Linked DNA regions of Homo sapiens: region 1 is linked to region 2. A link means that fine-mapping ties the variant in region 2 to the expression of a gene that starts in the linked region. Tissue or cell type: whole blood. Region 2 holds a variant in brackets; the other region holds the start of a gene. All regions are shown on one strand. Distances are between the middles of the regions.

The links. PIP is the estimated chance that this variant, and not a neighbour inherited with it, causes the effect.
Region 1: it holds the start of TIGIT, and the variant in region 2 is fine-mapped to the expression of TIGIT in whole blood (TOPMed, PIP above 0.99).

What each region holds. Positions count from the first base shown.
Region 1 is chr3:114,292,466-114,294,965 of GRCh38, reverse strand. TIGIT (T cell immunoreceptor with Ig and ITIM domains) reads right to left here and starts at 938. Exons shown (of 4, transcript NM_173799.4): 1 at 844-938. The coding sequence starts at 904.
Region 2 is chr3:114,372,080-114,374,838 of GRCh38, reverse strand. All of the region lies in intron 10 of ZBTB20 (zinc finger and BTB domain containing 20), which reads left to right. All of the region lies in intron 6 of ZBTB20-AS1 (ZBTB20 antisense RNA 1), which reads right to left. Among named protein-coding and RNA genes, the nearest start is that of ZBTB20-AS1, 22 kb to the right of the region's middle. The variant G/A (reference allele first, on the strand shown) is at 1,329.

The DNA of each region.
Region 1 (2,500 bases), 80 kb after region 2:
AGAATATAAGCCCTTGTCAGCTGATACCACCTCTTCTGTTTTTATTTTGTTTTGTTTTTATGTTTCTTCCTGCGGCCTAGTTCTATGCTGGATGCATTATCCTTTGAAATAAAACCTTGCTGTTTGGTTGATTGTCATTTGCAGTGCCTGAAAAAACCTTCAGGAAAGCCAAGAAATCCAATAGCAAAGGAAGCTTAGCAGGAAACCCTGCTTCTCCCAGGCATAACCACCCTCTCAGCACTTAACCTCTCCCCAGCAACCCTGGGCACATCTCCATCCTCAGATAGTTCAGAAGGCAACATAAAAACTAATTTATACCACAGTTTTTAAATATTTGTGTTCCCCTCCCTCAGAAATATTTGACTCTGATTTTTAATATAGAAGAAATAAATTTAACAAAAAATCAGTCTCTAGTGGTAGAACCTCTGGAATCTGTGAAAAAGACATTTTCAATTCACAGAGAACTTATAATGTTTTCCTGGAAAGTTCCTGAAAGGCAACAGAAAAGAAGCTGGAGCAGGAATGAGCTTCTAAAAGCAAACTGGCAATGCCTCCTGCCCAGCCCTTCTTCTTCTCCTGCTCCTTCTTGTGCTGGCCAGTCAGGCTCCTCCAACCCCGGAAGTCTGCAAAGTCCTTCATCTGCCACCAAAAACAGAACCCCACCTCATTCTCAGAGATTGTCCTTTCTTAAATAAGAGTACACAGGACTCTAAAAGTTGCAATTTCTTTCTCTCAAGCAGCTGTGGCATGCTCTTGGAGTCTTCCCTACACAAGCACCCAAGTCTCCAACCAAGCTTAGCCTTGTTTTTCCTCCCTGCTGCTCTGCTGGGTTTCAGGCCTTACCTGAGGCGAGGGGAGCCTGCCTCAGCCCCTGGGCCCAGATCAGGAGGAGACACCAGCGCATGCTTCTGCCCAGAGGGCCTACAGGAAGCAGATGTGGCCTCTTCTGCCACTGAAAGTAGCCGACTGCAGATAGGACGGTAAAACTGAGCCTCTGAGAAAAGACGGTCTCGGAAAAACCAAGTTTGGCAAAAACCATATTAAAAACACATAAAGTTGTCAACAAATACACAAACTGCATAGGGTGAGCCACAAGAAAGGCCATGAAGGAAACATTTAAAAATAAATGAAAATTGTGGTTAGAGGTACACTCGTCTTTGGATTATAGTCAATCTATTGTTTTTAAGTTCTGTCTTAATGTTTTTTCTAAAAATCAGCCTTTATTCAAAGAGCTCAAGGGCATCTGTGTAGTGCCCAAGATTCTGAAGAATCTGCTACTGATGAGGAACTGTTGGCTGAGCTCCTCTGGCATCCTCCTGATGAAGAATGTGCAATGATAAGAGAAGCTTATCATTGTAGGGACTTACAGGCCAGGGACTGCACTTGAAATCTAATGAACAGGTGAACAAGAAGTGTTTACTTGGGGGATGATACATGGATGGGACAAAGGTCTTGGACAAACACAGCAACTTTCCCTTGAAGGAGATCTTCTACTCGAATCTTATTTCTTTTGTCTTGTTTATCTGGACTGAGACTTTATTGAATTCTGGCTTGATTTCTCTGGTGCAGTAGGATCAGAGGAGATTAGAGGAGAGAGCTTTCCTGTGCACAATGACCTCATGAGAGCTGGAAATGCAAAGAAGGGTGAGCCCCTGGGAGCTGACCCAGGAGAGGGATTGGTTGACATTTGCCTGGAGCTCCCAGCCCATCACCAGGTCCTACTATGGACCCATCCTTCTTTCCTCCCTCCCTCCCTTCATTCATTTGAAAGTCCCTGGGTGCCTACAAAGCACCAACCTCAACACCAGGCTCTGAGGATATGAGAGTAAATAATCACAGCCCCTACCCTCAAATAGTTTACAAAGCTTGTTCCTTGGTGAACTCAGTCAGGAGAGGGGGTAGAAGATCCACATTCACCTGCCTCGCAGGCTCTCAACACAGTTGCCTTGGGGATGCTCCATGTTGTACATCCTGAAAATCTGCATCTGCACCCAGAAGCATCTGAAGCCTGGTGCCCCACCCCCTCCATTCCAGCCATGCACCTCTAGCATTTCACACCATCCAGGCTCCTACCCTCCTTCTCCCTTGCAAGGTCTTCTATCTCAGGCCAGTTTTCTCCCCTCTCTGGGTTCTGCCTATCCCCAACTCTATGACTTGTATACCCCTTATACCCCACCTCCAGACCCTTAGACAATATACGCCTTACCAGCTTCTCTCTGCCTACCCAAAGCAACCTGTCCTTCAAGGCTCACATCAAGAGATGCCTTGCCTTTCAATAGCTACAAAGCCTTCAGCTGAAGGAGAAATAATACCTAATGTGTGTCCAAGGGAAGGTGCCAAGGTTGAACTGGAGGGATGTTTCCCAAACTCACTAAGGCCGGGGAGCCAGGAGTGGCAGGGCCAAGAGCAGCTAGTGGGACTAGAGCACAGAAAGTGGTGGACACTAGGATTTGGGCTATAAAAATTTACAGCCTGTGTTTCCATAGTTGAGCTGGGTGGG
Region 2 (2,759 bases):
CTCAGAAGGCAGTGTTTATAACTGAAGATCTCTGTTTGGTGTGCCAAAAAATGAAAAACATTTTGGCCCCAGAAAACCTCCATAAATGTTCAAAATGTATAATCAAACAAAAGCTTCATTTGGATTCAAATGCATGTATCTCAGCAGATGTGTCTAAACTAACTGGAATCCCACAGGAGCAGCTGAACTGGATTTTGGTATGTCTTGATAACTGAAAGAGTTATTCTTAGACTTTGGAAGGACAAAAATGGTCCATCTGTGAAGAACCGTAATAGAGACATGGCAAAAAACAGCATCCTCTGAAAGAGTTTATTTATGGAATTTAGGACAAGTTGGACAATCCTGAAAACATTTTAGGGTCACACTAATTTGCAGAGAAAATATAGCCAAAATGGAATGGAATAACAACCACAGACAGTTACTATCCAATGGCTTGTTATTAATTTTCTAATAAATTCCGTATCAGTTAAGCAGTAATAGAGTGTCTTTGGTACAACTAAGTGCTCTCGTTGCCCCCAGTGTTCTGCATTCTGCTTTATTCTATGTTCTGTAAGGAATTATATATTTATCTTTTCATTTAAACTGTTTTTCTGTCATTTCATTGCCAAGTAAGCCCCTCATCTGTTAAATGTGGATTTCCTGTCATTAAAGATAGTCTTTCCCGTTTTAAAAAGTCACCTTTCTGCCTCTTAGTTAATTGATATATAATCTCTTTGGAATTTTTTCGTTACCTTTTATACCCTTTATTTAGAGATTTTAGTGCTTAGTCCAGCACTTATACATTGGAAGGCCAGTTCGTTTTTTTTATTTGCTCTAATTTCCTAGAGTTTCCACTTTGTGCATTTGGGGACACACTTATTTTAAAAAAGCACAGGTCTTGAAACTTTGTATCTTAATCTACCTCTATTTTTTAAATTGGCCCTCTTTTTATAAAACTTATTATTTCCCTACAACACCAATTTAACTGGGTTTCTTCCATAGTCACTTAATGCAGTAATTTCTGGTAGTCGTTCTTATTCATTCATTCATTTAGTCATTAATTCAGTCATTGATCAAATGTTATCAGATCCCTCATTCTGCACCAAGTCCTCAGCTAAGATTAGGGACGAAGATAGGAATAAGACCCCATCCCCACACTTTGGAACATAACGGGGTAAATATAAATGCAGAATTAAAGTGTTCCAGTATGCACAAAATGCTACAGAGCCCCCGAGGAAAGAGCCTCTTGAAGTGGAAAGAGCTCCACACCAAAAATGAAATTAAACTGGATCATAAAGGAGTGGGCATTTGTAAAGTAGAAGGCAGAAGTAATGGCATTCCAGGCAGAA[G/A]GAATAGAAAGAAGCAAAACCATAGAGGCACAAACAGAGCGCAGAGTTTTCAGAAAACAGAACAGTTCAGTTATGACACTGAGGCCTTCTTATACTTTGCCTCATTTTAATCATGGGAAGATTTGTATTTGGGTAACATTGTCTATTGTTATAATTCAGCTGAGCTGAATCCTATATCCATTTCAGAGACATTTGCTTTCCAAATATATAATAAAGCAAGACATCTACTTATTTTCTAATAGGCAAAAGAACCCTTCCTTCCACACAGCCAGTCAAAGTAAGAAAGTATTCTGAGGGGGCAAGGCGCAGTGGCTCACGCCTGTAATCCCCGCACTTTGGGAGACCAAGGCGGCCAGATCATGAGGTCAAGAGATCGAGACCATCCTGGCCAAATGGTGAAACCCTGTCTCTACTAAAAATAGAAAAATTAGCTGGGCATGGTGGCACGTGCCTCTAGTCCCAGCTACTTGGGAGGCTGAGGTAGGAGAATCGCTTGAACCCAGGAGGCGGAGGTTGCAGTGAGCCGAGATTGCACCACTGCACTCTAGCCTAGTGACAGAGCAAGACTGCATCTCAGGAAAAAAAAAGAAAGTATTCTGAAGGACCTAGTGATGATTTTGATCAGTAAATCACAAAATAAATTTTCTTTTTATTTTTCTTTTTTGTTTAAACAGGGTCTGGCTCTGTTGCCCAGGCTGGAGTACAGCAGTGCAATCTCAGCTCACTGCCACCTCTGCCTCCTGGGCTCAAGCAATCCTCCCACCCAGCCTCCTGAGTAGCTGGGAACATAGACTTGTGCCACCACAGCCAGCTAGTTTTTTGGGGGGTTTTTTGTTTGTTTGTATTTTAGAGGTGAGATTTGATCATGTTGCCCAGGCTGGTCTCGAATCCTGAGCTCAAGCAATCCGTCTGCCTCGGCCTCCCAAAGTGCTGGGATTACAGGCATGAGCCACCACACCTGGCTCAGAATAACTAATTGTTGAGAAAAGTTCATTCATGGAGCCAGAGTCACCTACAGGTGTCATGCTGGAACTTTGTCATGGATTTGTGGCCCTTCCCGACTCTAACAGTCTGTCCTCTTATAAAATCCTCCCAGGTCCCTTGGCAAGTCTGGTCTCAATGCCCATTGGCTCAAGTTACACTGTGTCATATTGCTCTCCCAAACAGTGCATAGATATGATTATCCACATGTAATTGTTAGGGCCCAATGCTGATTTTCACGGTTCTGTTCTTCATCTTGCCATCTCATCCCATGCAGGAATACATCTTTAATTCTTATCTACAGCTGCTAGTGACAGTTTCATGTGTGCTTCCTCTGTTCATGGCAGATTTCATTATATAAAATTAGTGCTTCTCCATATCTGTCAAGACTTCTCACATCCTTACTTAAAATAAAAGAGGCCACATGCACTACTGCCCTTAGAGTTGGAT